Regions from separate parts of the Homo sapiens genome. Here all the other regions are linked to region 4. The links come from fine-mapping of genetic effects on gene expression. A gene starts in region 4. Each other region holds a variant in brackets. All regions are shown on one strand. Distances are between the middles of the regions.

Region 1 (8,108 bases), 73 kb before region 4:
GGTCTTTCAATGGCAAGTAGTCAGGAAGAGGGCAAAGACATCAAACAATTGATAAGGGTTATAAAATATCAACAATGGCTTATTCAGTAGAAATCATTGCAAGCCCTAGGACTCTAAGAAACACTCAGGAAAAATACTCTTGGAAATAAAGGATTACTGGGTGTCTATGTAAGGGCAGGGTAGCAATAACCACTGGCTGCTTCCCCATCAGATGATCTGAACAGGGAATAAGAGCAATCTAAGTAAGTATTCTAAAGAGTGAACCTACCAGCAATTTTACTTACTAAGGTTGTTTATTCTCAATGGTCAACTCAGAACACTTTCCTTGTAACTGATAAAACAGAGAAGACAAAAAAAGTTTGAATGGCATAGGGCTTGCTTTCTGTGGTAGGAACCTGAGTCTACTCTTTTGCTAAAGGACAGACCTTCCAGATACAAACCGTTGCCTTAACTAAAGGGATCTAGACAGTAAGTGACAGCTGTCAGTAGTAACAGAAGTATCATTGCTCTTGCTAGATCTACATTTATCTATCTATCAGACTATTGAGTTTGCTGATAAGCCACTGGCTCAAGAGAAAACCTTAGCTTAGCTGGTAAAATAATTTTTAGAATACTAACAACAGCAATTACTATTTGTTGAACACTTATTGAGTGCCTCATTTATATTAGTTCACTTAAACCTTACAACGAGCCTATGCATACGACTATTCCTTCATTTCACAGAAGTAACTGAGATTTGGGAAAGTTTTTTTGTTTGTTTGTTTGATTTTTTTGAGACAGAGTCTTGCTCTGTCACCCAGGCTGGAGTACAATGGCATGATCAAGGCTCACTGCAACCTCCACCTCCTAGGTTCAAGCGATTCTCCTGCCTCAGTCTCCTGAGTAGCTGGAATTACAGGTGACCGCCACCACACCCGACAAATTTTTGTATTTTTAGTAGAGAAGGGGCTTCATCATGTTGGCCAGGCTGGTCTCAAACTCCTGACCTCAGGTGATCCGCCCGCCTTGGCCTCCCAAAGTGTGGGATTACAGTCGTGAACCACCGCACCTGGCTGAGATTTGGGAAAGGTTAAACTAACTTGCTTAAGGTAACACATTAAAGCTGGCCAGTAGGAGACTCTAGAGATAAAAACCCAGTTGTCTGACTCCAAGACTTGTCCTATAAACTTCCATATCATGTTGCTTCTCATTTTATACACGATGAAGGAAACATTACTGCCCCTCTTCTTTTCCCCATCTATGAAGTACTGATGTTCATGTGCTACGGTCCAGCTGACTTTTCCTTTCTTTATAATAACCCTTCCATAATGCCAATGTCCATCTGAGTCAGGACATTTTACCAAATGTTTTCCATCTGGAAAACTGAATGCAACATGAGAAGTCAAGAGATCTGTCTACTGTCACTGGACACTATCAAGAGATGGGGGCAGGGAAGCAGGGCGTGGAAAATGGAGATCTAAACTACTGGCAAGTGTAGGGGAAAGCTATGGGACCTTGGAGGGTGGGGGGATTCTGGCTCAGCCCCAAGCAGGGTGGATATGGTGGAACCAAGACAGACCTAAGGAAGGTGTGTGGCTGGGAGCTGGATCAGGATGGATCACGTGACCCCAGAAAGCCAACCCTGGTCATCTCTCAATTACCAGAATCCTGGGAGGACAAAGCAATGACTACATCCATTCAGAAACTGGATTCACTTTAAATCTTGCTGCTACTTCACTGCAGGCCTATGCCCCTAGGTCAGTCACCACACCCCAAGTCTCCTTGAAAGGCAGTGGAAAGAGGCTGGCCAGAGTATAGGATATGGCTCTTAAGCTCACCCCATACAGGCTATCCCAGAGGCAGTCAAGCTAGAATAACAATGGTGATACCCCCTGCTATTTCCTTAAAACTTAGTTTCTAGGGCACTTTTTCACAGTCTTTAACCCCCATTTTTTTCAGATGGCGAAACTGAGGCTTAACAAGGTCAAGGGACCTGTTCAAGGTCATAAAACTAATAAGTGGCTAAAAAGAATATAATGTATGTCTTACTTACAAAGCAACAACGGACTGATTTCTAGAGCTAAGTCTATTTACGATGGCTGGAGGTTCATTCAGCTTCTTAAATCTGTAGACTCATCAGTTTTTAGAAAATTCTCATTCTCTCCATGAATATTGCTTCCGCTCTATTCTCTCTCCTTGCTTCTACTTCTGGGACTCCAATTACAGACATGCTAGGTCTTTCATTTTTCTTTGAGATAGGGTCTTGCTCTGTTGCCCAGGCTAGAGTGAAGTGGCACAAACATGGCTCACTGCAGCCTCGACCTCCTGGGCTAAAGTGATCCTCCCGTCTCAGCCTCCCAAGTAGCTGGGATTACAGGTGTGCACCACCATGCCCAGCTAATTTTTGTATTTCTTGTACAGATGGGGTTTCGCCATGTTGCCCTGGCTGATCTCAAACTCCTGGGCTCAACCAATCCATCTGCCTCAGCCTTCCGAATGCTGGGATTATAGACAGGAGCCACCATGCTGGCCATGCACAATATTTTTTACACTCATCAATTATTTTTCCCTGATTCTTGGTACTCTCTGATTCTATTTGGGTATTTTCTATTAATCTGCTTTCCAGGTCACTAATCCTGGCCACTGATGTCTCCAATCTGCTGTTAAATCTATCCATTGTTATCTTAATTTCAGACATTGTTATTTTTTAGTTCTAGAATGTCCATTTGGCTCTTTCAAAAAAAATTCTAAGACTCTGGGAGTATTCTCCTTCCTTTCATCTATTTTGTCCATTTTCCCTCTGTTTCCTTGAATATATTAATCGTAGTTTGCAGGCTCATGCCTGTAATCCCAGCACTTTGGGAGGCAAAGGCAGATGGATTGCTCGAGCCCAAGAGTTCGAGACCAGCCTGGACAACATGGCAAAACCCCATCTCGACTAAAAATACAAAAATTAGCAGGGCATGGTGCTGTGCACCTATAGTCCCAGCTACTCAGGGGGCTGAGGCAGGAGGATTACCTGGGGCTCCGGAGGTCAAGGCTGCAGTGAGCCGTGATCGTGCCACTGTACTCTAGCCTGGGTGACAAAAGTGAGACCCTACCTCTAAGAAAAAAGAAAGAAAGAAAATAAAGAAATCATAGTTTGCAATAGCATTGTCTTAAAAAATAAAAACAATCTGCATACCTTAATTTTAAAATATTTTATTGCTAAAAAATGCTAAGGACCATCTGAACCTTCAGCAAATTGTAATCTTTTTGCTGATGGAGGGACTTGTGTCGATCCTGATGGTTGCTGACTGATCAGGGTGGTGGTTGCTGAAGGGTGGAGTCATTGTGTCAATTTCTTAAAATAAGACAACAATATTTGCTGCATTGGTTGATTTTTCCTTTCACAAAAGATTTCTCTGTAGCATGCAATGCTACTTGACAGCATTTTACCTACAGTAGAACTTGCAAAAACAATGTCCACTACCAACAGAATGGATAAATACACTGCAGTATTTCCATACAATGAAATACTAATCCAGCAGGAAAATTAACCAAGGCTAACCAAATTGATCAGCATGGATGAATCACAAAAATTTAACATTAAAAAAAAAGAAGGAAGTTACAAAAGAACACATACATTATGAGTCTCTAGTATGATTCTATTCATATAAAGGTCAAAAACAGGTAAAACTGAATAACAGATTATTTAGGGCAGGGGTCAGCAAACTATAACCCTCAGGCCAAATCTAGCCTATGGCCTGTTTTTGTAATTAAAGTTTTATTGGAAGACAGCCATGCCCATTCATTTACATATTGGTCTATGGCTGCTTTCTGGCTACAAAAGAGTCAAATATCTGCAGCAGAGACTGTACAACCTGAATAAAAAACTTTTTTAAAAATTACTCTCTGACCCTTAGAGAAAAAGTTTGCCAACTTCTGGTTTAGCGATATATACACATGTGGCAAAACTATGCAGAAAAGCAAGGGAATGCTTAATACACTCTTAATAGAGTGGTGATCTCTTGAGGAGTGGATGGGAGAGCATCTAATTAGGGAAAGGCCCATTGAAGGACTTCTGAGGTATTAATGAAAGACGTACTTCCACTGGGTGGTGGGTACATATGGGTTTGCTTTATTATTAGACATTGAATGGTACCTATTAATACAAATGGTTAAAAATAAAGTCTACAAACCCATAACAAAGTTGTTAGGGAGGCTAATCTTCAGAGTGGGCAGAGGCTTATGAAAACAGCAGGTAGTATCCTTCCCGCCCATGGAGACACTGGAAGATTGTGTTAGGGACCGAGGAGGTGGCTGGACCTGTGGGTTCTGGCGTCAGAGGAGATACGAGACTTGAGTAAACTGGGGGATGAGAAGTAAAGGGGTCACCGGGTGGAGAGTGTCATCTGGTGGAAGAAAAGAAGAGAGGCCCAGGGCAGAAGGCTGACTTAAGGAAGCAACCAAGGAAGAGCAGGTGAAGGAGTTGGCAGTACACGTGCCACAGGTGGCCAGCAACCAAGGAAGAATTCAGCCCTGGGAGCCAAGGGTGAGTGTGTGAAGGATGAGGGCACAGCTGAG[T/C]GCCCTCAATGCGGCAGAATGACTTAGCAGAATGAGAACTGTTTACCCCTGGAGAGAGGGGAGAACGGACCTGGGGGAAGGAACCAAAGCCCAGAAGGGAGAAGGGGCTGTGCTAAAGCACCCCAGGCATAAGCTTCATACAGGCTCCCATCTCTGTGTACACCTTCTTCTTGCGTGAGTCATCTCTAAAACTTTCACAGAGAAAGAAGCCACCCTAGTAAAAGACCCAGTCCTGCAGATCAGTGGGACCAAGTTGTCACAAAATGCACAAAACACAGGTAATCAAGAGCTGCTTGGAAGCAGCAAAATGCTAAGTTTCTCCTGTCTCCAGTCTCACCTGCTCTGGATTTCAGAGGAAGCTGCTCATGAAACAGGCAGGGGGAGACAGGCCCATCGGATTCCTTTCATGAGAAGTCTTTCCCAAATCCAGGGAGATGAAGTTGGATGAACCTGGGAGTTTTCCATAAGAGGCTGTGACTGAGTTACAGCAATAAAAAGACATGTTGCCTGCTCCAAGAGTAGTTATTAACAGGTGCTTTTTAAAAATTTAAAACAACAACAACAAATCACAGACAGCGAAGAAAAGAAATATTCACTGAAAACCTACTGTGTGCTCGGAACCTTCCTTATGCTTGCTCCCTTAACAGAAGGTGCTCTGTATTTATTCAAAGGAGTGAATTCTAATGAGGAGTGGACGAGCAGAGCCTGAATGTGTTCCTGAAAGTAATTTTACATTTCCAAAAGAAAATACCAAATAAGTCAGAGTTTTGGATACTGATATCCTCTGAACCATCACAATCAGGCAGCACTCGCAACACAACAGGTGTGGCTAAATATTTGTAGAATGGATGACCTCTAAGGTCTCTTCCAATACAGGTTTCTGTGATCCTATAAAATAACTGAGAACCAAGGGCAGCAGAGTCATCCAGAGCTCCCAGGAGAAGCACCTGCTTCAGGCAAGTCTTGTCCACAGGCAGGCAGTTTCTCATAAGGATGGCAGTGATTAACTCAGTCTGGAAAGAGTGCCAACAGCACAATGAAATCAAGTGCTGTGATGGCTCAATTAACCAATGCTCTGAAAATGGAGTTTCTTTATAATGGAGTTGGCCGTTCTGCCTAAAAACTCACCATAAATCACATGCCTATTGGCATGTGCCACATGGTTTATAGCAGTGCTCTGAGAAGCTGGGAGTGGGGAGATGCCCTCATGTGGCTCCCATCTGTCCAGTGTCTATAAACAGGGACAACCCAAGGTTTGGGTCCTTGGGTCCCCCCTTGGCAGTGACCCTGCTGTCCTTCTGTGGACACAGTACACCTGCCACAGGCCTGGAGAGAAGGTGGCCAGGCCTGACCTCATCATCCACTCATTCCCCCACCCCCTTCTATGGCGTTGCCCACCCTGGCTTGGTGCTAGGACTCCAAAGATGAGCCAGGCATGGCTGCCATCCTCAAAGAGCTCACAGTCTCCTGGCAGCCCCAACACTGACATGGATCCACATAATCCCCTAGAGCTTGGGCAATGCTGAGGCAACACACTGAAGTTTTCCCACCCACTCATGTCTTTAGACAACAGCTGGAACTGACACATGAAACATTGTCCCGGGGAAGAAGGAAATGTCTTCGTGTTTTAAGAATAAAGAACAGGTCTGAGTACAGATCTTCCTGAGATGAGTAGCACCAACTGCTTCCAGAAGGAGGAGAGGCTGTCCATGCATCCCTCCCCAGGTAGAGCGTGACACATGCTTGGACAGGGCAGAGGAGCTGGCTGTGCCTGGCATGGAATGACAGCTGCTGAAGCTGTTGGCCACAGCTTTCCTTCTCAAAGAGCCTGTGCTCTTTGGCTGCCCACAGTTTACACAGAAGCTGAATCTGATGTGGCGTTTGCTCAAAATGAGCTGAGTCCATTCTACACCAGCCACTGCTTTTTTTTTTTTTTTTTTTTTTTTTATTATACTCTAAGTTTTAGGGTACATGTGCACATTGTGCAGGTTAGTTACATATGTATACATGTGCCATGCTGGTGCGCTGCACCCACTAATGTGTCATCTAGCATTAGGTATATCTCCCAATGCTATCCCTCCCCCATCCCCCGACCCCACCACAGTCCCCAGAGTGTGATATTCCCCTTCCTGTGTCCATGTGATCTCATTGTTCAATTCCCACCTATGAGTGAGAATATGCGGTGTTTGGTTTTTTGTTCTTGCGATAGTTTACTGAGAATGATGGTTTCCAATTTCATCCATGTCCCTACAAAGGATATGAACTCATCATTTTTTATGGCTGCATAGTATTCCATGGTGTATATGTGCCACATTTTCTTAATCCAGTCTATCATTGTTGGACATTTGGGTTGGTTCCAAGTCTTTGCTATTGTGAATAGTGCCGCAATAAACATACGTGTGCATGTGTCTTTATAGCAGCATGATTTATACTCATTTGGGTATATACCCAGTAATGGGATGGCTGGGTCAAGTGGTATTTCTAGTTCTAGATCCCTGAGGAATCGCCACACTGACTTCCACAATGGTTGAACTAGTTTACAGTCCCACCAACAGTGTAAAAGTGTTCCTATTTCTCCACATCCTCTCCAGCACCTGTTGTTTCCTGACTTTTTAATGATTGCCATTCTAACTGGTGTGAGATGATATCTCATAGTGGTTTTGATTTGCATTTCTCTGATGGCCAGTGATGATGAGCATTTCTTCATGTGTTTTTTGGCTGCATAAATGTCTTCTTTTGAGAAGTGTCTGTTCATGTCCTTCGCCCACTTTTTGATGGGGTTGTTTGTTTTTTTCTTGTAAATTTGTTTGAGTTCATTGTAGATTCTGGATATTAGCCCTTTGTCAGATGAGTAGGTTGCAAAAATTTTCTCCCATGTTGTAGGTTGCCTGTTCACTCTGATGGTAGTTTCTTTTGCTGTGCAGAAGCTCTTTAGTTTAATTAGATCCCATTTGTCAATTTTGTCTTTTGTTGCCATTGCTTTTGGTGTTTTGGACATGAAGTCCTTGCCCACGCCTATGTCCTGAATGGTAATGCCTAGGTTTTCTTCTAGGGTTTTTATGGTTTTAGGTTTAACGTTTAAATCTTTAATCCATCTTGAATTGATTTTTGTATAAGGTGTAAGGAAGGGATCCAGTTTCAGCTTTCTACATATGGCTAGCCAGTTTTCCCAGCACCATTTATTAAATAGGGAATCCTTTCCCCATTGCTTGTTTTTCTCAGGTTTGTCAAAGATCAGATAGTTGTAGATATGCGGCGTTATTTCTGAGGGCTCTGTTCTGTTCCATTGATCTATATCTCTGTTTTGGTACCAGTACCATGCTGTTTTGGTTACTGTAGCCTTGTAGTATAGTTTGAAGTCAGGTAGTGTGATGCCTCCAGCTTTGTTCTTTTGGCTTAGGATTGACTTGGCAATGCGGGCTCTTTTTTGGTTCCATATGAACTTTAAAGTAGTTTTTTCCAATTCTGTGAAGAAAGTCATTGGTAGCTTGATGGGGATGGCATTGAATCTGTAAATTACCTTGGGCAGTATGGCCATTTTCACGATATTGATTCTTCCTACC
Region 2 (8,108 bases), 20 kb after region 4:
AGGTGACAGCAAACTGCTGCCTCTCTTCCACCTTATTCTCTAAGACATAATTGATCACATCACTTATGTCCTCTCATGTTTTTTCTGATTAGAAAAGGGATTCTCATTGAGGAAATTCAGAAAGTGGATAGAGAAGCAGAAGAATTATCCATAGTTGTTTGTAAGCATGTTAAATAGCTGCTTAAAACTGCACTGCATCGATACACCATAACTTAATAGCTTCCTGTAGGAAAACAGCCTACTGCATGGCAAGAGTCACACCATCTTGGGGCGAAACTGCCATGATGTTTGATCTCCACACACAAAGGTATTCTGCAGTAAGGTCTTGAAGCAACGCTGTACACAGATAAACCCTCATAAAGATGCTTACCTAACCTCCCCAGTGGTCATGAATCTTGGAAGAAAGTCTGAAGACATGACTAGCTGCACGTCTTTACCCTAAAAGCTTGCTATTTATAAAGGGCGGATGCGGGGATCTACGATTCTTATGGCTGCCTAGACATCACTTCTGTTCATAAGTCCCTATGAAATGTTTCCCTCTGAGAAGCTGGGTTTGTCAGCCTCTTTCTTCGTCCTCTAAGCTCCCTCAGCCTTTGTGGGTAGGTTCACATACACCTACTGACCAAGGAACACTCCTCATTCACTTCTGCATTTTAGAGATCCAGGAACTAAAGCTACAATAAATGTTTACTTAAAGAGACGAAGAGACATCTAAGTGCATACAGTAAATGAGATAGGTAAGACATGGAGCCAGACGTTTTATTTGAAAATTATCTTTATGAAATTGAAACCATAGTAATAAACTTAGGGAAGATGCAGGGATAGAAAGAGAACAGTAACTGAAAGTTAACACTTTAGAAATTCCAACAATTACTGGATAGTAAAAATAAAAATAAAAAACTCTATAAATGAAATAGAGGAAAATTAACTTAAATAGAACCTTTGTATCCTCAACAACTACAGAAGATGCCTGCCACACCCATGGAATAAATGTTTGTTTAACTGAAACGAACACAACAGCTGGATGAAAAGAGACCTAGGATATCTGATGGCGGTGAAAGAGGATTATCATGTGGAAAATAACTCATGCCTAAACACTGTGAGGATCATACATGGTAAGTGAGGGGCAAAGGCTCCATCCAGCTTATAGGTGGTAGCTGAAGCCATAGGAATAGATACAATTGCACATGCAGAGTATGCAGAATGAGAAGAATTTTGAGCAAGACCTCCTCAACCTGACCAGAAACTTTTCTTGCCTGAGGCAGGGGGAGGACAGAGCTGTCAGCAGGGCTTGGGGACTATTAGGAGTATCTAGATCAGCAGATAATTTGAGAGGGCCCAAGAGAAGGAGAGGCCTATGTTTTGGGGCCTGAGAGAGGTTTCTTATCGCCAGTGATTTTATCACCAGGGCTCTGAAAAATGGATAGGACACTTCCTTCCAAACAATGTAATCTTCCCTGAAAATGGACCTAATAACATGCCTCACATTACCATCAAGGCTAAATTGGACTCCACTGACTCATAATTCTTTTTTTATCTTTGGTTTTGATCCTTACTTCCCATACAACTCAGTAAATGACAGCACTGCTCTTCTTCTACTGAATAATCTATTTCAAGGATGGGCAGTGGAGACTCTATAGTTGTGTTTGCTATTATTACCTGTGCCATAGTAGAATCCTTTATAGCATTCATGTCGAATGTAAAGGAAAAGAGAACAAACAAAACGAAGTAGATTGATATCTTGCTAGGTAAATCCTCTGAGATAAAATTTCTTTCAAATGGAGTCAGCTGTGTAAGAAAAAAAATGGCCTCTTCTTGCCATGCTGTGTTTTGCATGGATGTTGTGGCTAAGAAACAGCCTTTGACTACAATAATATGTGGGTAAAAATATCTCCAGCTCCTGTTTGTCTAAAAATGGCCCAAGATAAATAAGCCTTATCGCTGGCAAAATTCAATTCCCTTTGGCAGATATTTGTTAATCACCAGCTGTGTTCCAGAGCCTGTGCTGAGGACACAGAGGTGAAAAGCCATAGTCCATGGCCCCTGGTAACTCCTGGATACCCAGACATAAGGAAGGGACTCCCTGAATTATTGATGGGAAGAAAACAGTCCATTCAAAGGGAAGATGTATTCCTCATTGTAAATTAATACACGGGCACCTGTTTACTGAGAACATCATGAGCTTGGTTAACGTAACCCAATTCTTGATAATGAGCAGCTCTGGATTTCTGGATGTTTTCAGCTAAAGATTGGGCTCTGGATCGTGCCATAGGTGCAGGTAAGTAAAATTATGGGGGGTAGGGAAGAGGAAGCTCATGTGCTCCTTCCTGTAGTCCTAACTTCCACAGGGCACTGGGGCATGGCTCGTTTCTAACATTGGTGATTCCTATCCTTTCTCAAGAATTCTGAATCAGGTGAGAGAGAGAGAGATAGCGAGAGAGAGAGCAAGAGAGACAGATACATACACACACACACACACACACAGACACAGAGAAAGATAAACAGAAGCTGTTGAGGAGGCAGAGCTGCTAAGGGTATCATTTTTTTTTCTACTTTGACACCATTTTCAAATAAATTTTAGTAATTGTGTCACTATCCAGCCTGGATGGATAGCCAGCTTCACTTTGACATTTCTCTTTAGATGCAACAACCTTACAGTGGAGAATTTATTTAAAATTTTAAATAGATTTTAGAGGATTCTTGGAAGCAAGAAACTATGGCTCTTGCCATTAATCTCTGACTGTGCTAAAATCAGTCCAGTTCTGGGCCAGTGCTTCAAAACCCTTCCTTTACTGTGCAAGGACAGAACAGAACTGATATGGGGGTGGGGGAGGGAACTAGCTATTTCTGCCACAGCCAATAGTAATATTATGACTGTCATCTTTCCAAGAGGTACATCAGGACACAGACTACTCAAAGGTAGATGTCTGGACACTAAGATTTTAATCATTAACTCCTGCCCTTAAGGTTTTCCAGGCCTAAATCTCCTCTTCTATTCTCTGTGCCATATTATCCTGGGGTTTCAACCAAGTGCTTCAAGGTTGTATATTCGAGCTAGCTTGCTAGCGTCCTCCCTTCCTTCTTTTGCTCTTAGGTATAATTTACCTACCATAAAATTCACCCATTGTAAGTGTACAATTCATGATTTGTAGCACATTTATGGAGTGTGCAGCCATCACCCCTATGTAGTTTCAGAATGTTTCCATTAGCCCAAAAAGATCCTTAATGCTCATTTGTAGTCAATCCCTATCCTACCCTAACCCAGGCAATCACAAATCTGCTTTATGTCTCTATCAGAGCTTCTTTTTTGAAGAAAATTTTGGCCTTAACCATCCAAGAACTCCTGCACCTCTACCTGAAGGTGGGGTGCCCTTCTGGCTAAGAATACAAATTATGTTCTTAAAGTTTTACAATAGAATGCAACTTTATGCTGGTGTGTCTGTTGCAGGCCATGGCCACGTCGGCCATGGAAAGCACCCGAGTGGAAATAAATAGAAAATTCTTCTCCTGCCTCAGCCTCCTGAGTAGCTGGATTACAGGCATGTGCCACCACACCTGGCTAATATTTTGTATTTTTAGTAGAGATGTGGTTTGTCCATGTTGGTCAGGCTGGTCTCCAACTCCTGACCTCAGGTGATCTGCCCACCTGGGCCTCCCAGGTGGAGGTTGCAGTGAGCTGAGATGGCGCCACTGCACTCCAGCCTAGGCAACGAGAGCAAAACTCTGCCTTAAAAAAAAAAGAAAGAAAGAAAATTCTTAGGCACTGCAGTAGAGGTACAAGAAAATGGAGATTGCCTCAAGTGCTGGCACAGCAGGAATTTCAAAGCCTCAGATATGGATAATAACCGCAGGTGACGTGGCCTTCTGAGTAACAAAATGCTTTATATGGAGGTAAAAGTTGTATCTGGGTGCTAAGCAGTGAGCCCACAGTTCTACATGCTTTGGATCTGGTGGACATCTTACTCTCTGTGAGTTCTCAAGAATCATTAAATTCGGAGTATACCTCCATGAGGTACAAAAGAGGCAGGCAACAGGGAGCCTCCCTGCCTCCTTGTCTCATTTATATCTTGCACTGCTCT[A/T]CTCCAGCTTCAGGAATAAGTCAAAGTAAAAGGAACTATAAACTGTGTCCAGGTTGTCTCTTGAACCCTGACAGGCTCCAACTTCTGGCTACAGCAGTGTCTAATATGAAAGCAAACAGACCTTGCTTCAATCAAAACCACAAAACATCTGCATTCTAGTCTCTCACCACAGAGCAATCTTGACCACCCTGCCATCCAGCTCCTATGTCTCAGAAATATGCCTCAAATATGTTTTTCTGTAGGTTCCTGAGTTATCCCTTCCATGGGCAGGGCACAGGCTTTGAAAAAAGAACTGGCTTTAAATCTCATTTCTCCTGCTTGCTTATCATAACTGCCCGTCATCTGTAAGCCTGGATTGTAAGAGAGGGATAATATGTAGCCAGGTAGGTTGTTGTGAGAATGAGTAAATATAAATATAAAGCTCTGCCCAGTGCCTGGCATGTAGTAAATGCTCGGTATTTACTACATAATGGTAGCGCTAGTAGTCTTCATATTTTAACATGGTTGTTTTCATAGGACAATGACAAAATGTTTGTATTAGAACCTCTCCCTTCTCAAGCCAAGTTAGAGTGTTTTATTTTGGTTTGGAAAACAGTGCAACTGTTTGTTAATGCTTATCATCTAGGCTATAGAAAACACATCATAGTTCATAAAATCATTATAATCTCATTTTGGAATCAGGAAACTGAGGCTCAGAGAAGAATCTCAGCAAAGTCACTCAGGTCATCTGCATCCATCTAAAGCCAATGTCTGGCCAGGCATGGTGGCTCATGCCTGTAATTCCAGCACTTTGGGAGGCTGAGGTGGGCGGATCACATGAGGCCAGAAGTTCAAGACCAGCGTGGTCAACATGCTGAAACACTGTCTCTACTAAAAATACAAAAATTAGCCAGGCATGGTGGTGCACACCTGTAATCCCAGCTACTCGGGAGGCTGAGGCAGGAGAATCACTTGAGCCCAGGAGTCTGAGGCACGAGGGTCACTTGAACCCAGGATGCAGAGGTTGCAGTGCACAGAGATCGTGCCACTGCACTCCAGCCTGGGTGAAAAAATTAAGCCAATGTCCTTCCCACTTAAAAATACTAAAGATCAGCCAGCCGTGGTAGCTCACACCTGTAATCCCAGCACTTTGGGAGGCAGAGGCGGGTGGATCACCTGAGGTCAGGAGTTCGAGACCAGCATGACCAACATGGAGAAAACCCATCTCTACTAAAAATACAAAATTAGCCAGCCGTGGTGGCACGTGTCTGTAGTCCCAGCCACTCGGGAGGCTGAGGCAGGAGAACAGCTTGAACCCGGGAGGTGGAGGTTGCAGTGAGCCGAGATCGCGCCATTGCACTCCCGCCTGGGCAACAAGAGCAAAACTCTATCTCAAAAAAAAAAAAAAATACTAAAGGTCTCCATAGAGCAAAGGTTCTCCACTCACCTATGGGAGGGGCAGACTTCTACCTACCATGGTGAAAACAGAGTCAATACACGACAATGTCTAATTAGAATGAATATGCTCTAATCTGAGGAGAGAGACATATTTCCCTAGGTAAGGGTCACAGTTCATATTCCAAATATGACTGGGATGATATTGCACAGGGGCTCCCTGGGGGCACTTGGGAGAGAAGACTAGTAAAGAGCTCTGTGAGTCACCCCACAGGGAAATGCAGCAGTCTTGGAGTCTGTCTCTGAAGAGTATTCTACAAGAGAATTAGGACCCACTGTGAGCCACTGTGCCTAGCCGACATTTCTTAAAAGAAGACATACAGGCCAGGCGTGGTGGCTCATACCAGTAATCCCAGCACTTCGGGAGGCCGAGGCAGGTGGATCGCCTGAGGTCAGGAGTTCGACACCAGCCTGGCCAACATGGTGAAACCCTGTCTCTACTAAACATACAAAAATTAGCTGGGCGTGGTGGTGGGCGCCTGTAATCCCAGCTACTCGGGAGGCTGAGGCAGGAGAATCACGTGAACCCAGGTGGCAGAGATTGCAGTGAGCCAAGATTGCACCACTGCACTCCAGCCTGGGCAACAGAGAGACTGTCTCAAAAAGAAAAAAAAGACACACAAATGGCAAACAGGCATATGAAAAGGTGCTCAACATCACTGATCACCAGAGAAATGCAGATCAGAACTACAATGAGGTATCATCTCACCCCAGTTAAAATGGTTTATATCCAAAAGACAGGCAATAAATGCTGGTGAGGATGTGGAGAAAAGGGAAGCCTCATACATTGTTGGTGGGAAGGTAAATTAGTACAACCACTATAGAGAACATTTTGGAGGTTCCTCAAAAAACTAAAAACAGAGCTACCATATGATCCAGCAATCCCACTGCTAGGTATATACCCAAAAGAAAGGAAATCAGCATATCAGAGATATCTACACTCTCATGTTTGCTGCAGCACGGTTCACAATAGCTAAAATTTGGAAGCAATCTAAGTGTCTATCAACAGACAATTGGATAAACAAAGTGTGGTACATATACACAATGGAGTACTATTCAGCCGTAAAAAAAGAATGAGGTCCTGTCATTTGCAACACCATAGATGGAACAGGAGGTCATTACATTAAGTGAAATAAGCCAGGCACAGAAAGACAAACATTGCATGTTCTCACTTACTTGTAGGATCTAAAAATCACAACAATTGAACTCATGGAGATAAAGAGTAGAAGGATGATTACCAGAGGCTAAGAAGGGTAGTGGCATGGTAGGAAGGTGGGGATAGTTAAATAGTACAACAAAAATAGAATGAGTAAGACCTACTATTTGATAGCACAACAGAGTGACTACAGTAAATAATAACTTAATCATACATTTGAAAATAACTAAGAGTGTAATTGGATTGTTTGTAACACAAAGGATAAATGCTTGAGGGGATAGATACCCCATTCTCCATGATGTTCTTATTTCGCATTGTGTGCCGGTATCAAAGCATCTCCTGTGTCCCATAAATATATACACCATGAACCCATATAAATTAAAATTAAAAAAATTTTAAATAAAATAAATTTAAAAAGAATGGTCAGTCTGCATCCTCTGCACCCAAGAATCCATATTCCTCACAGGAGCTCACTTCTGGCAATCCACATAGTGTGTGTGTGCACGCACTCCGTGTATATGCTTGTTGCAGAATCACCTTCTTCAGTAAATTTCTCAGGGTTAATTTCACTTTCCTCTTATTCTTCCTTTACCCTGAAGTACCTCTATACTTATATATCTAGTTGCAATTATCTCTCCCTGCATCCCATTAGATTATCATGCACTATTTATTTATTTATTTATTTATTTATTTTTGAGACGGAGTCCGCTCTGTCGCCCAGGCTGGAGTGCAGTGGTGCAATCTCAGCTCATTGCAACCTCCGCACCCCGGGTTCAAGCGATGCTCCTGCCTTAGCCTCCCAAGTAGTTGGGATTACAGTCACCCACCACCACACCCAGCTAATTTTTGTATTTTTGGTAGACACAGGGTTTTGCCATTGTTGGCCAGGCTGGTCTCGAACTCCTGACCTCAGGTGATCCACCCGCCTCGGCTTCCCAAAGTGCTAGGATTACAGGCATGAGGCCACACTATTTTATATACTGCATATATTACCATCATAACTATCTTCTGGTTGACTCTACAATTAGTACGATTAGATCTTAAGATTTGTGTGTGGTTTTTTTTTTTTTTTTTTGAGACAGAGTTTTGCTCTTGTTGCCCAGGCTGGAGTACAATGGCGTGATCTTGGCTTACTGCAACCTCTGCCTCCAGGGTTCAAGCAATTCTGCCTCAGCCTCCCAAGTAGCTGGGATTACAGGCATGCGCCACCATGCCTGGCTGATTTTGTACTTTTAGTAGAGACGGGGTTTCACCATGTTGCCCAGGCTGGTCTCAAGCTCCTGACCTCAGGTGATCTGCCCCCCTCGGCCTCCCAAAGTGCTGGGATTACAGGCGTGAGCTACCGTGCCCAGCTGTGTTCCACATTTTTTTTTAACTCTCCTCACTCCTCCAACACTAAGCCCAGAAATATATTGTATAGCAATGTTTGTGGGGTGAAA
Region 3 (8,108 bases), 230 kb before region 4:
TCTCCCAAGTAGCTGGGATTACAGGTGTGCACCACTGCGCCCAGCTAATTTTTGTATTTTTAATAGGGACTGAGTTTCACCATGTTGGCCAGGCTGGTCTTGAACTCCTGACCTCAGGTTGTCCACCTACCTTGGCCTCCTAAAGTGCTGGGATTACAGGCATGAGCCACCTCACCTGGCCCCATCACTACTATCTAATTCCAGAACATTTTCATCACCCTCCAAAAATATCTCATATTCATTAGGCAGTCACTCCCCTATTCTCTCCTCTCCTAATAACCACAAATCTGCTTTTTGTCTCTATGAATTTATCTATTATGGACACTTTGTATAAATGGAATTATATAATGTATGGCCTTTTGTGACTGGTTTCTTTCATTGAGCATGTTTTCAAGATTCATCCATGTTGTACCATGTACCAGTACTTCATTCCTTTTTTTTCTTTTTTGAGACAGGGTCTTGCTGTTGCCCAGGCTGGAGTACAGTGGCATGATCACATCTCACTGCAGCCTTGACATCCCAGGCTCACACAATCCTCCCACCTCAGCCTCCCAAGTAGCTAGGATCACAGGCACATGCCACCATACCCAGCTATTTTTTTTTTTTTTTAATAGAGACAGGGTCTCACTGTGTTAGCCAGGCTGGTCTCAAAACTCCTGGCTCAAACAGTCCTCTCACCTCACCCTCCCAAAATACTGGGATTACAGGCATGAACCACTGCGCCTTGCCTTCATTCCTTTTAATGAACATATAATATTCCATTTTATGTATATACATTTTGTTTATCCATTCATCAGTTGATAGGCATTTGGATTGTTTCCACTGTTTGAATATTATAAATAATGGTACTATGACAATTCATGTACAAGTTTTTGTTTGAACATATGTTTTCACTTCTCTTGAGTATATGCCTAGGAGTGCAGTTGCTGGGTCATATGAAAATTCTGCTTAACTTTTTAAAGAAACTTGCCAAAGCAACTGCACCATTTTACATTTCCATGAGCAATGTTTCAGTTTCTCTACATCCTCACCAATTCTTGTTTTTATCTGTATTTTTTATTATGGCCATTCTAGCAACTGTGAAGTAATATTTCATTGTGGTTTGGGTTTGCATTTCCCTGATGAGTAATGATGTCGAGTATCTTTTCATGTGCCTATTGGCCATTTGTAGATCTTTCTTTTTTTTTTTTTTAGACGAAATCTCACTCTGTCTCCCAGGCTGGAGTGCAGTGGTGCAATCTCGGCTCACTGCAACCTCCACTTCCCAGTTCAAGCGATTCTTGTGTCTCAGCCTCCTGAGTAGCTGAGACTATGACCACCACGCCCAACTAATTTTTGTATTTTTAATAGAGACAGGGTTTCACCATGTTGGCCAGGCTGGTCTCAAACTCCTGACTTTAAGTGATTCACCTGCTTTGGCCTCCCAAAATGCTGGGATTACAGGGGTGAGCCACCACGCCCTGCCAATGCTTTGCTTTTGATGTTATATTTGAGAAACTTGCCTACTTTAAAGTCACAAAGATGTATACCTACGTTTTCTCCTAAGAGCTTCTAGTTTTAGTTCTTACTTTTAGGCCTTTGATCTACTTCGAGTTAATTTTTTATGTGGTGTGAGGTAGGCATCCAACTTCATTCTTTTGCATGTAGATATCCAGTTGTCCCAGCATCATTTATAGAAATGGTCTTTTCCCCCACTGAATTATCTTGGGATTGTGGTTAAAAATAGATTAGCCACAGAAAAAAAAAAAGAAAACCAAAATTTGTTGTCATCTCTTAAAGAATTAAGAATTGTACATAAAAACCTTACATCAATTAAAACAATGAATACATTTACAGTGTAAATGCAAACTTCTTCCAGCTCAAGGCAAGTAACAGCCTACCGGTGTCCTGGCAGGAAAACATCAGGAAAGAAAGGAAACTGGGTCCTAAGGTTTGGACTTTTCCAACCCTGACAGACGGGCAAGACAGAAATGACAACTGGTGGAGGAGCTCCTGCCGGTCTCTAGACGAATTCTGGAACCCTGAGCTCCGACACATTAGTACCCTGCACAGATGGAGAGACTGCAGGTCAGGCAGAATCACCAAGCCACGGACTTCTCTTCCACAAGCATGTTCTCACCTCTGCCATGAAGTGACTAAGCCACATGTACTAAGGGTTTAAATCAAAGATAAGTACAAGGTATTAAATACCAAGGGAACATTTAACTTCAGTACAAGGTCAAAATCAGCAACAAATCCTACAATCCAGTGCTGACATCAGATACAAGCTTCAAGGACAAATTTCTTTTCTTTTTTTTTTTTTTTTTTTTGAGACGGAGTTTCACTCTTGTTGCCCAGGCTGGAGTGCAATGACGCGATCTCAGCTCACCTCTGCCTCCCAGGTTTAAGCGATTCTCCTGCCTCAGCCTCCCGAGTAGCTGGGATTACAGGCATGTGCCACTATGCTCGGCTAATTTTGTATTTTTAGTAGAGACGGGGTTTCTCCATGTTGGTCAGGCTGGTCTCAAACTCCCGACCTCAGGTGATCCGCCCGCCTGGGCCTCCAAAAGTGCTGGGATTACAGGCATGAGCCACTGCACCCAGCCTGACAAATTTCTTTTCAAAGGCTTATTCCAGTTTCCTAAGGCTAGCATGAGATGTATACATTTTCCAGGGACAAATTTGTACTTCTGAATTGACTCAGGCAGCACAGGCTACGTATCTCATCACAGTCCATTTAGAAGCATTTGCGGTGAACAGTGGAGGGGCCTGACTGGTGGCACTCCCGCTTGCTGATCCACATTGGCTGGAAGGTGGACAGTGAGGCCAGGATGGAGCTGCTGATCCACATGGAATACTTGTGCTCAGAGACAGCCATGATCTTGATCTTCATGGTCCTGGGTGCTGGGGCAGTGATCTCCTTCTACATCCTGTGTGTGATACTTGGGTGCATGGCAATGCTGCCAGACAGCACCACATTGGTGTACAGGTCCTTGCAGATATCCACATCACACTTCATGATGGAGGTCAAGATGGTCTCCTGGATGCAGCAAGATTCCATGCCCAGGAAGGAGGGCTGGGACAGCGCCTCTGGACACCAGAACCACTCATTGCTGATGGTGACCACCAGGCTGTGGGAGAGCTTGTAGCTCTTCTCCAGGAAGGAAGAGGACACGGCAGTGGCCATCTCCTGCTGCAAGTCCAAGGCAACACAGCATAGCTTTTCCTGGATGTCACGCACAATCCCCCACTTCACTGTGGTGATGAAGCTGTAGCGGGCCCCTCGAGGATCTTCACCACGTAGTCGGCCAGGTCCCGGCCAGCCAGGGCCAAACACAGGATGACTGGGAGAGGGTGGCTGTATCCTTGGAGATGGGCAAGTGTGGGTGACCCCATCGCCTGAGTCCCCCATGGTGCCAATGGCACTGACAGAGGCATGCAGGGACAGGGTGACCTGAATGGCCCTGTACTTGACTGGGGTGTTGAAGGCCCCAAACATGATCTGAATCATCTTCTCTCTGTTGGCCTTGGGGCTCGGGGGCCTCGGTCAGCAGCACCAGTTGCTCCTTAGGGGCCACGTGCAGCCCATTGCGGAAGGTATGGTGCTAGATCTTCCCCATGTGGTCCCAGTTGGTGATGAGGCCTGCTCCATGGGGTGCTTCAGGATCAGGATGCTGCTTGCTCTGGGCCTCATCGCCCACATAGGAGTCCTAGCCCCTGCCCACCATCATGCCCTGGTGCCAGGGGTGCCTGACAATGGAGAGGAACATGACTTGAGGGCATTGTCCCCAGCAAAGGCAGACTTGCACATGGCAAAGCTATTGTCAACAATGAGCAAGGTGATTTCTGCTTCCATTGTGATCTGTCGGGGAAATGATGAGACAATGTCGAGTGTGGTCTGGCACCAGCCAGGGAGAAATTTAAATAATTTTTACCTAAAATTGTAATACATTATTCTATTTTGGTATAAATAAAATGGTTAAATAACATTGTGAGTTTTAATACACTTTTCAGTTTTTCTGTATTTTTCAACCACTTCCGCGTTCTGAAAAAAGCAACAATTTAAGAATATATTACAAAGTGTATGGTGCACACATTTTTTTATTTGCCTCAGGAGCCAATATGTTGAGACATGGCATTGTTGATTCAGCTGTGTGGGGCTTAACTATTGGAAAAGAGATTTTTATTTTTACTCTATGAGTTTGAGTATAGTGTGGAAAATCATCTGCTAAAAGTATCCCCATTTTACAGATGAAGACCCTATTAAGAAAGGCTAAGCAACCGCCCAAGGTCCCCAGCTCTGCTAGGTAGTTACCCTAGAGCTTGTGTTATTGGCCTCCATTCATGATATTTATAGACTTGATTAGCTAATAATCAGGTATTGTTTCTTGTATGTGGCTTTGTCTCTATTGATTGCATCCATTATATGTTAATATTTGCTTCTTACAGAATATTTAATAAGGTTGAAATATGAGTGGAAGGGACTTTATATACCACGGAGATAACTTAATCCATCCTGCAGTTCCCTAAGGAGCCAATAAAGGTGTCTAAGCCATAGAAATTGTGTAA[T/TTA]TATATATATATATATAGTTTTTTTTTTTTTGAGATGGAGTCTCAACTCTTGTCACCCAGGCTGGAGTGCAATGGCACGATCTCGGCTCACTGCAACCTCCGGCTCCCAGGTTCAAGCGATCCTCCTGCCTCAGCCTCCCGAGTAGCTGGGATTACAGGCACCCACCATCATGGCCAGCTAATTTTTTTGTATTTCTGTAGAGACCACGTTGGCCAGGCTGGTCTCGAACTCCTAACCTCATGTGATCCGCCCACCTTGGCCTCCCAAAGTGCTGGTATTACAGGCGTGAGCCACTGCGCCTGGCCTAGATATGTTTGAAAGAATAACGAGGGGCCAGTATAAAAGATAAACTGGAAACAGAGAAAGCAAGTTTTTTTAGGGTTGCTGGATGAGGGCAAATGCATAATTAAATGACGAATGTGTTCATTAAGGCAGTGGTGGGAAGAACAAAAAGAAGAGGACATAAAAGAGTGATTGAGGTGATTGACAAAAGAAGGGACATAAAAGAGTGATTGACACTTGAGTATCCTTTGAGTTGGGTTGTTCCTAGCCATCCTTTCCGATCTTCCTTCCTAACTTAAGTAGGTTAAGGATTAAGGTTTCTTCCACTCTAGTTCTTGATTCATGTTCACTGGTAAATAACACCACTTCAGACTCTTTCAAAGTGCTATAATATTGATTTATTTGATCCTCTCAAAAGAAGAGTACAGACAACCATTTTAGAATGACTGTTAAGGGTCTTAACTTTAAGGTTCAAAGGACACACAACTCAGCTGTTCTGCAGTTGAACCCTGTGGGTAACAACACAGACGAACTTCAGTCTGTTTGGCTGATGGGGCTGTGGAGAGAGCAGGACACACGTCTTCATGAAGTTTCAGTCCTGACAGTTTCTCATAAGGTATCATTTCTTACCTCTCTTTAGGACCATTCTGAGAGAATACATGTAGAGATCTTCAAATCAGGAAGGTCATCACCACTATCTTTCTTGCCATTATCATATCAATCTTCCCCAATAGTAACACAGGACTTCTCTTATAGCATCCAGCTAAACTGGTTTTTCACTTACTGATGCTTCCTAGAGCCTAGGAAAAGCATAGAGGACCTACCTGTCTATCCCTCTGTTCTGGACTGTTGATTCCATAGTTGATTCCTACCTCCAGGGGAATGCTACAGATGCCTCCCTTCCCAACCAAGCAACAGGGACTAAGCAATTAAGAACAAATTTTCCTCTAAAGTTGTGTCATATCACAGATTATTACCATTATCTGGCCTCTTCAAAAGAGAATGCATTTTCCTCTATATGTAACCATGAATGTATATATGTCCAAATGGATTTGTTCATCTGTGTTGAACTTGGGAGAACCTTTAGTGATCTTCTATGGAATTCCCACATGTGCTTTTATTTGTGGGTCTGAGGTCCCAACGGGAAAAATAGAGAACTGATCACTATCCTGGATCTTCTCACACAAGTATGGGAACATCTGAACACTCATATTTAGAATGTTTGGGGATTTGAGTGGAAAAGGTATTGTTACTGGATAGAGTTGTTGAGGTTCTTGGTGTGTTGAACAAAGAATTGAACAAGGCCAGGCACAGTGACTCACACCTGTAATCCCAGCACTTTGGGAGGCCGAGGTGGGTGGATCATCTGAGGTCAGGAGTTTGAGACCAGCCTGGCCAACACGACGAAACCCCATCTCTACTAAAAATACAAAAATTAGCCAGGGGTGGTGGCGTGTGCCTGTCATCCCAGCTACCCAGGAGGCTGAGGCAGGAGAATCGCTGGAACCTGGGGGGGCAGAGGCTGCAGTGAGCCAAGATCGTGTCACTGCACTCCAGCCCGGGTGACAGAGCAAGACTCCGTCTCAAAAAAAAAATTAAAAAAAAAAAAGAATTGGACAAAGTAACAAAAGAACGGAGCAAGGAAAGAGCGAAAGCACAGGTTTATTAAAGACAATTCGCAGAGTAGGAGTGGGCTCCTGCAAGCAGCTCAAGAGCCTTCTCAATTACGGTTTTTATTAAGCTAAAGGAACCTAGCAACACCCCTTGATGCCCTGTAGAGGCCTCCAATTGGCTACACCGTGAAGGATTGGCTGAAACCGAGACCCGACCAGCAGTCAATCAGGGGCTGAAGTGGCTTGTTATCATGGGAGTGAGGATGTGGCCTATATGCTGCACCTGCTGCTCTCCTGCCAAATGATAACAACCCTATGTTTAAAAACAGCTGGCCGGGTGCGGTGGCTCACACCTGTAATCCCAACACTTTGGGAGGCCAAGGCAGGTGGATCATGAGGTCAGGAGTTCAAGATCAATCTGGCCAACATAGTGAAAGCCTGTCACTACTAAAAATACAAAAATTAGCCGGGTGTGGTGACGGGCACCTGCAAAGCTACTCAGGAGGCTAAGGCAGGAGAACTGCTTGAACCCGGGAGGCATCAGCAACCGTGCCTGGCCAGGAGCTTGATAGATTCTAACATGCAAATAAAAGAGCAAAGGGCCAAGAGTGGCCAAGACACTCTTGAAGAGTAAGGTGGGAGGATTTATTCTATCAACTATCTAGTCTTATTGAAACAGCCTCGTTTTCTGGAGTAACACTCAAGGTTCGTTGTCCCACGGCCATGGAGAACAAGAACAAGGACACACAAATAATGAGGTTAAGAGTGGAAGTTTAATAGGCGAAAGAAAGAGAAGAGCTCTCTGCTGCAGAGAGGGGTCCTGGTAAAATAGGTTCCAGTTCTGCGGTGAAATGCAGGGGGTTTTATAGATGAGCTGGTGAATAGGCGGTGTCTGATTTACCTAGGGTGCAAAAAACTGGTTATATCAGGTGTGCCATTTGCATAGGGCACGAATTTCTGGTAGCCCCCACCCTAATCTTCTATTATGCTGGCTGGTTCTCTGCCTGAGCTGTGCCATGTTGCCCATTTATCTATTACTGTACACATGGTAACAAAAAAAGGGAAGATGAAACCTCCAGGGTGGACATGCCTGGTCCCCAGGTAGCCCTTTTCTATTGGCACAGCTGTCGGCATTCCCCCAGCAAGCCTCTAGCTTCCTTATTTATGTTTGCAGCTTGATTTGTCAGGCTGCTCTTTGTTAGGAAAAAAATGATTCTTGGCTGGGTGCGGTGGCTCACGCCTGTAATCCCAGCACTTTGGGAGGCCAAGGCAGGCGGATCACAAGGTCAGGAGATCGAGACCATCCTGGCTAACAAGGAGAAACCCCGTCTCTACTAAAAATACAAAAATTAGTCAGGCGTGGTGGTGGGCGCCTGTAGTCCCAGCTACTCGGGAGGCTGAGGCAGGAGAATGGCGTGAACCCGGCAGGCGGAGCTTGCAGTGAGCCAAGATTGAGCCACTGCACTCCAGCCTGGGCGACAGAGCGAGACTCCGTCTCAAAAAAAAAAAAAAAAAAGATTCTTGGGCTTTTTGTTAGACTGGAAGCTCTGCTGAAGACTCTGCTGACCTCACTATCTGCCTAAGTAATTTCTTTCTACCTCCTGTATCATTATGACAAAGCTATAGTAATTACGATACTCTGGTATTGGTTCAAAATTAAACAA
Region 4 (8,108 bases):
GCTCCAAGAAAGATCTGAGCTAGAAATTAAAGTGTGGGCATCATGGGCATATCGATGGCATTTGAAGCCATGGGAGGGTGGGGAGGAGTTGCAGGTGGGACAGTATTACCTAGGAAGACAGTGTGGACAGAGAAAAGGAACCAGGACCAGTCCCTGGGCAACCCCATGATTAGGAGTAAGAAGAAAAGCAGGAAACAGTGGGGCCAGAGGAGCTGAGAGGGGTGTTGTTTTGAGGAGAGGGAGTGGTCATTTGTTAGGAATGCTGCTGAGAGAGGTGAAGTGAGGTGAGGCTGAGATCTGGCAACCCCCTGGTCACCCAAGACCCTGGCAGTTTTGGTGCAGAGGTGAGGCAGAAGCAAGACTGTAGAGTATGGAGAGTGAACAAATGGCAGGAGAAAGTGAATGGAGCCAGTGGGTTTGGATGTATCTTCTGAGGTGTTTTCAGGTGAAGAAGAGCAAAGAAGTGAAACAGGAGAGGGATGTAGGAGGGAGGGAGATCTCCTTTTTAAGATGAGAGCAACTAAAGCTATGCTATCCAATATGGTGGCCACTAGCTACATGTGGCTATTTAAATTTAGATTAAGTTAAAAATTCAGGTCCTCAGTCTCAACAACCACATTTCAAGTGTCCAATAACCACATGTGCTGGTGGCTGCCACGCAGATACAGAACATTTCCAGCAGTGCAGAAAGTTCTGTTGGTCAGATGTATGCTCCTATACTGATGGAGAAGACCCCGGAGAGAAAGGTGGTTAGGAAGGAGAGACAATCTCTGAAAAGATGGGAGGAGGAAGGGATGGAATGGAGGCTACCCCAGAAGAAGGGGCCCCTAGTAGGAAGAGATGAGGGACAGGTCATCCAGCACAGCAGGCAGGTAGGAGAAGGTAGCAGCAGCTGCATACTAGACTAGGTGGTGGCAAAATGAAGACATTCCCTTGGTCAAAGGTGCCTATCTTGTCAATTGAAAGGGAAGCCACGGGGTGTGCCTAGGAAGGGGAGAGGTCTGGAAAGGGGAATAGGTATGAAATAGTTGCCTTAGGGAGTAAGAACACAAACTCACTGGAGAGGCCACACTTAACACAGAACACTTCGCAGAAGAGAAGTGGAAAATGGTAGTGAACATTTGAGGGAGGAGAAGCATCTCAAGTTGGGGGGAGGTAAACTCAGATAGTTTGTTTTTTTTTCCCTTAAATCCTAGTCCTGTCTACACAGCAGAGCCATGACGAAGCTGTAGGATCGCAGCAAGGTTTTCTACTAGCTGCCCTTTCAAAAAGTTCTTCCCCCTCCATCCTACACAACTCTCAGAAAGGATGACATTGGTTCTATTTTCAGTTAAAACGGCTCCCTCCACCCTCCTGTCTGAATTGCTTCCCCAGCCCTTAGCTGCATCTCAATTTACGACCATGGCTTGTATTTTCACATAAATAATAGAAGACATGGATCTATTAAAAATGGCAGAGGTAGGTAGGAGTTACAAACCAGCCTTTATCTACGAGAAGTGAGTAATATATACATTTATCGAATGATGTTAAAATTACATGAAAGACATATTCTGTGTTTAAACAAAATCCCCAAGCGTCTCCTCCCTGCTTCTCCACAAACAAAAATTATTTTTTGACATTTTCTTTAAGGTTTTATGAGTGAGTAAACATTTTCATTTCCACAGAACTATTTGATCTCAACCACAGAGTTTCAGTACTTGTTTTTGATCACACAAGTACGGTGGATTGGTTTTGTGTTGGCCAGGGGGAGGGAGGGCCAGAAAGAGAGTTAAAATTACCGGATCCCTTTTATCTTCCATTCTGAGACCTTACATTTGCCAACTCCTTTTTCCCTGTACATTTTTTTAAAGTATGAAATCTGAGAACCTCAAAGGCTCTCACTGCTCAAAGATCAGCCTTTTCACAGTCCACTGAGGACTCACTGGAAATGTTACAGAAATACGGCCTGCCAACTTGGGTGCCTCTGGGTAAAATCACCCACAGTTGCTGTTCATGTGAAATCTCCTAAATGTAAGCACACTTCTTCAGCCCTCGCTGCTCATCTCGCCTCCTCCTCTCTGTCACCCACCTCTGTCATGTCCAGTTCATGTTGGCCCACAGCCCTCACACTTCCATTCCTCAAAATTCCTCTTGGCCTGCCTCTGATCCCCTCACACACTCTGCAGCTCCCATGGCTAAGACTCACCAGGCAAAATGACTCCAGAAACTTAACCTGGAGTACGGTGCAAGAAAGCCACTGACCCAGGGGGGCTGAGCCAGGGCACCAGGACAATCTTGCTCCTTCCACTGCACTCTTGCCTTCCCAGGCCCCACCCATCCCAAACAGGAAAGCAAGATCTCTAGACCCTTGGAGCAGAAGCATTTGAGTCCTGCGAAGGGCTGTTGGAAGAATGCTGGGTTCAGCAGCAGGGAACAGAGAGATTTAGGAATTCTGGTTCACTTACCCGCCTCCATGCCCACGTCAGGCAGTGGCAAGGCCACCCCTGCTACACAAATGCTCATCAACTACACAGCCTGGGGGAAGTCACCGAACCACTTTGTGCCTCAGTTTCCTCATCTGTAAAGTGGACATAAGTGTCCCCTGAATACGTATGGCAAACCGTCAACGTGTGCCCAAATAGAGTGAGCAGATGTAAGGAGTTATTGTGCTATTAGCACAGTGGCTCCCAGACTCACAGAGCCTACTGCTCAGAGAGACGCCGAGGGGAAAGCTTAAATTACTTTATATACTCAGAAGCATTAGTCACTTCGACAGAGTATTTCAACTTCCCTCCTGAGCATCTACTCAGTTGTTTCAAAGACTGAAGCCTCACCTAGGTTCCTTATAGACTTCCATCATCTTCAGCATCTCAAAGCAGATCCAAAGTCCACTATTCCTACGCTGGAGGTTTATTATTATTTGATTATTTCCAGGAAAACTTCGATTTCCATTTTGCTTGTAATAAATCCAAACGTGGAGAACGACAAACTGCTTAGACTCACACAGGCCCTGGAGTTGACTGCGCCCAGGGGCGAAGAGACCGCGGAATGGCCGAGGCAGGAGGCCGGCCAGGGCACCGGTCCCCGTCAGGTGCCCCCGTGCCCGGGCTGTATGGGAGGGGAAGGGCCACGGGCTCCGCGCCCAGGCCAGGGTGCCCCTGCTGGGTGTCCGCGTGCCCCGGCGGAGGGCGCGGGTCAGGTGGCCCCAGACTCCCGGGCGCAGAGTGTGCGCTCGCTCCGGCTTGGGGAGGCGGGGGCCGGCCCGCCGGGAGGCTCCGAGCCCGGTTACGCCAGCCGCGGCCCCGCAGTCCCTCCGGAGGGGCGCGCGGAGAGCGCGCGGCGCGGGCTCACTCACCCCATCTCCGGCGCTGCTCCGGCGGCCGCTCCGACGGGGCCTCTCGCGCTCGCTCTCCGCCCGCTCGGCAGCCGCTCCCCGCGCGGCACATGCGGCGGCCCGTGCGCGCCCGGCTCAGCCCCGGCGCCGCTCCATTCCGCGGGGCTGCGCGGCTGCCACTGCTGCCACTGCCGCCACCGCCGCCAGGCGCGGGCGGGCGGGGGCTGGGCGGCCGCGCTGGGGCGGTGCCCGCCCCGCCCTCCCCAGCCGCTACCCCCGCCCGGCTCCTTACGTAACCTCGTGGCCCCCGGGCCGCGGCAGCGAGCCAAGAGGCGGGGGGCGCAGCACTGTGTGCACCGTCCCCCGCGCAGCCGCGCAGTCGCCGCTTTTCTCCCGGGCCACCCAGTCCTCGGTGCCGGCCCCGCGTTGGCGCGCCCCCGCCCCACGCCGACCCGGGGCCCTGGCGCAGTGCCATCAACATCCTGCCTGATGGACTTAAAGTCCCATTCACACCTGGCGGGGACTTTAGGGCTACCTTTACTTTGCAGATAAGGGAACCGAGGCCTGGGGAGGGTAAGTGATTTGCCCAAGGTCACACATTCAGATTAGAGTTCGTTCGGGTCTCCAGAGTCTGAGATGGGCATAGCTGTGCTCCTCCTTAAAGCCCACCTTCATCTTCCTGCCAGTTGCCCGGCCGAGTGGCCTTAAGGTACCCGCCACCGTGAAATTTCGGAAGCCAGCCTGGCAGAGAAGAGCCTACAGGCCGCGGCAGATGCTCTGGGCTCTTTCCTGGATAAAAATGAGATGAGGGCTCCCACTTGAAGGGGCAGTTTTAAGGCGGCTTCATCAAGCTTGGTTTTATCCTTAGAGCGAGGGGAATTAGGATGGCAAAAGTAGAACTTGAAGAAGAGCAGGCTCTCTTCGTCGCCTTTCTACCTATCAGGTCCTGAGTTTCTACCAAAGGCTGGCACTGGGACTAACCTAACCTTCATCCCCCGGGACTTCCACGGGATCATCTTCTGCTGGGAACACACCGCCCACATAAGCCTGGCATCTCAGGACAGTAAAAAAGTCAAGGGACAGGTCGGGCGCGGTGGCTCACGCCTGTAATCCCAGCACTTTGGGAGGCCGAGGCGGGCGAATCACGAGGTCTGGAGATCGAGGCCATCCTGGCTAACACGGTGAAACCCCGTCTCTACTAAAAATACACACACACAAAAAAAATTAGCCGGGCGTGGAGACAGGCGCCTGTAGTCCCAGCTACTCCGGAGGCTGACGCACAAGAATCGCGTGAACCTGGAAGGCGGATCTTGTAGTGAGCCGAGATCGCACCACTGCACTCCAGCCTGGGCAACAGAGCGAGACTCCGTCTCAAAAAATAAATAAATTAATTAATTAAATACATAAATAGCCGGGTGTGGTGGCGTGCTCCTGTAGTCCCAGCTACTCCCAGCTACTCGGGAGGCTTGATGCAGGAGAATCGCTTGAACCCAGGAGGCAGGGGTTGCAGCGAGCCGAGATCATGCCACTGCACTCTAGCCTGGTGAAAAGAGCCAGACTGTCTCAAAAAAATAAATAAATAAATACAAAATAAGTTTGTAAAAAATAAAATAATCTTGGGAGTTTCCAAATCCTCCATGCATAGTAATCAGCAATATCAGGAAAGTGAGCTTGTAGAACACTGAACAAGTCATTTATCAGGTAATACCTGAGGATTCTGAAGTGTTCGAATAACTTCAAAGGCAAGCCACTGAAATCAGAGTTTTTCATTTTTATTTTATTTTTATTATTTTTTTTTTGAGACGGAGTCTCACTCTGCTCACCCAGGCTAGAGTGCAGTGGCAGTGGCGTGATCTCGGCTCACTGCAACCCCCACCTCCCAGATTCAAGCGATTCTACTGCCTCAGCCTCCCCAGTAGCTGCGACTGCAGGCGCATGCCACCACGCCCAGTTTTTTTTTTTTTTTGTATTTTTAGTAGAGACAGGGTTTCACCATGTTTCGATCTCCTGACCTCGTGATCCACCCGCCTCGGCCTCCCAAAGGGCTGGGACTACAGGCATGAGCCACCGTGCCTGGCCGAGTTTTTCATTTTTTTAAACTACAATCCACAGTAAGAAATATATTTTACACTACAACCTGCAACCTGGTACATACTTCAGCACATACATACTATGTCTATAGGTATATCGATATAAAATAGAAACAAAAAGTTATATAAAACAATGTTTATCCTCTCACTTGCCAGGCAGGCATTCAGACATCATTCTGTTTTGTTGTTGTTGTTGTTGAGACAGAGTGTTGCTCTGTCACCAGGCTGGAGTGCAGTGGCATGATCTCAGGGCACCACAACCTCCGCCTCCCAGGTTCAAGCGATTCTCCTGCCTCAGCCTCCCAAGTAGCTGGGACTACAGGCGCGCACCACCACCCCAGCTAATTTTTGTATTTTTAGTAGAGACAGGATTTCACCATGTTGGCCAGGATGGTCTCCATCTCTTGACCTCGTGATCGGCCCACCTCAGCCTCCCAAAGTGCTGGGATTACAGGCGTGTGCCACCGTGCCCGGCCCATTCTGTTCTATTTTTAAAAGCAGTACTGCTCATAACCTACTAAATTGATTTCAAAACCTATAATCTACGTATTTTTACTTTCTTTTTCTTTTTCTTTTTTTTTTTTTTTTGAGACGGAGTCTCACTCTGTTGCCCAGGCTGGAGTGCAGTGGCGCAATCTTGGCTCACTGCAACTTCTGCCTCCTGGGTTCATGCAATTCTCCTGCCTCAGCCTCCCGAGTAGCTGGGGCTACAAGCGCATGCCACCACACCTGGCTACTTTTTTGTAGTTTTAGTAGAGATGGGGTTTCACCATGTTAGCTAGGATGGTCTCGATCTCCAGACCTTGTGATCCGCCTGCCTCGGCCTCCCAAAGTGCTGGGATTATAGGCGTGAGCCACCATGCCCGGCCTGTATTTTTACTTTCAACAGCAAAATTAGGCTCACCATGTACATGCATAATGTTGTTATTAGTGTGCTCAGATTTCTGGTATGGCTGGTCCAGGGACTTCAAACATTTTTTTTTCTAACCATAAAAGGTCAGTTCTTTCAACTGCATATGAAACAAATGTATTATTAAAGCCATTAATTAAAGGGATAACTGTCGGGTATTATGCAGCTATTACATTATATTTGTGAAGCCTATATAGTAACATAGAAATATATTTATTCTTTCAATAAATGTTGATCACCTGCTGTGTATCTGGTACTGTGTTGGGCATAAAGTGCTCAGCAAAACAGACGTCCTTCTGTCATAGGACTATAAGATTGTGTGAATGGTATTAATCAAATAATCACACAAATATATAAGCTACGATCTGTGTGAATAGGAGACCTAATTTAGGTTGAGGAGGATGGTCAGGAATGGCCTGTTGAAGAGACATTTAAAAAGAGGCCTGATGGCTGGGTGTGGTGGCTCATGACTGTAGTCCCAGCACTTTGGGAGGCCAAGGCAGGCAGATCACTTGAGGCCAGGAGTTCAAGACCAGCCTGGCCAACATGGCAAAACCCCATCTTTACTAAAAATACAAAACCTAGCCAGGCATGGTGGTACATGCCTGTAATCCCAGCTAATTAGGAGGCTGAGGCAGGAGAATCACTTGAACTCAGGAGGCAGAGGTTGCAGTGAGCTGAGATTGCATCACTGCACTCCAGCCTGGGTGACAGATTGAGACTCCATCTCAAAAAAAAAAAAAAAAAAGAAGAGGCTTGAAGACAAAGAAGCATCAGTCATGGGGAGCATGAGGGGAGGGTTCCAAGCAGAGGAAACTGCAACGGCCCTGAGGTGGTAGAGAATCATGCTGTTCTGAAGAGCTGGGAGAAGGCCAGTGTGGTTAGAGTGCAGTGAGCTTAGCAAAGCATGGGTGAAGTATGCAGGGCCCTTTGGCTGGATTAAGGATTTGCAATTTATTCAAATGCAGTGAGAACCCACTGATGGGTTGGGGAATGCCGTGATCTGGTTTATATTGTTAAAATATCACTCACTCCTGGGAGAAGAGGGGATAAGAAGGGGACAAGAGTAAAACATGGAGACTGGTTAAGAGGCTCTAGACAAAAGATAAGGGTGGAGATGAAGGGAAGTGGATTACAGATTATAGATATTTTAGAGGTAGACTCAATAAGACTTGGTGGATGGGATGTGTATTAGGATATAAAGTTAAGTTTGTAAAATAATCTGAATTACAGCTGTGCTATGAGTATAATTATGTAAAATTAGAAAATATGGACAAGGCCTGGAGTATAGAAAATGAAAAAGTTTATTAGGATGGCAGAAGGAATATAGGGTAAAGGCATCAGTATTAGACTCAGACCTGCATTAAGTCCTGGATCTACCATTGACTATCTGTGACCACGGGCAAGTTTTTAACTTCTCTGAGCCTCAGCGCTCTAATCTACGAAGTGGCGATATCTCTTTGGACTATTAAGAAGAGTGAATGAGAACAGGTGTGGTGGCACACACCTGTAATCCTAGCACTTTGGGAGGCTGAGCCGGGTAGATCACCTGAGGTCAGGAGTTCAAGACCAGCCTGACCAACATGGTGAAACCCTGTCTCTACTGAAAATATAAAAATTAGCTGGGCATGGTGGCACATGCCTGTAATCCCAGCTACTCGGGAGGCTGAGGCAGGAGAATCACTTGAACCCAGGAGGCAGAGGTTGCAGTGAGCCAAGATACTGTGTCACTGCACTCTAGCACGGGCAACAGAAGTGAGACTCCGTCTCAAAAAAAAAAAAAAACAGAGTGAAT

Direction of the effects. Positions count from the first base shown, and alleles are read on the strand shown. Sizes are in standard deviations (SD) of each study's normalised expression. Not every link is listed here.
For the expression in thyroid of the gene that starts at base 3,524 in region 4, T is the high allele of the variant in region 1 and C is the other (moderate effect, 0.49 SD a copy in GTEx).
As copies of TTA replace T in region 3, the expression in prefrontal cortex of the gene that starts at base 3,524 in region 4 goes down (moderate effect, 0.69 SD a copy in ROSMAP).

Evidence for each region.
Region 1: its variant is fine-mapped to the expression of HOMER2 in thyroid (GTEx, PIP above 0.99).
Region 2: its variant is fine-mapped to the expression of HOMER2 in whole blood (INTERVAL, PIP above 0.99).
Region 3: its variant is fine-mapped to the expression of HOMER2 in prefrontal cortex (ROSMAP, PIP 0.95).

What each region holds. Positions count from the first base shown.
Region 1 is chr15:82,876,415-82,884,522 of GRCh38, forward strand. The region is part of intron 2 of HOMER2 (homer scaffold protein 2); the gene reads right to left. Among named protein-coding and RNA genes, the nearest start is that of WHAMM, 71 kb to the left of the region's middle. The variant T/C (reference allele first, on the strand shown) is at 4,546.
Region 2 is chr15:82,968,953-82,977,060 of GRCh38, forward strand. It overlaps a transcript of HOMER2 not described here. Among named protein-coding and RNA genes, the nearest start is that of RAMAC, 13 kb to the right of the region's middle. The variant A/T (reference allele first, on the strand shown) is at 4,080.
Region 3 is chr15:82,723,591-82,731,698 of GRCh38, forward strand. It overlaps the pseudogene ACTG1P17. Among named protein-coding and RNA genes, the nearest start is that of AP3B2, 18 kb to the left of the region's middle. The variant T/TTA (reference allele first, on the strand shown) is at 4,549.
Region 4 is chr15:82,949,197-82,957,304 of GRCh38, forward strand. It overlaps HOMER2 (homer scaffold protein 2), which reads right to left and starts at 3,524. Exons shown (of 9, transcript NM_004839.4): 1 at 3,335-3,524. The coding sequence starts at 3,339. RefSeq lists an enhancer at 2,774-3,274.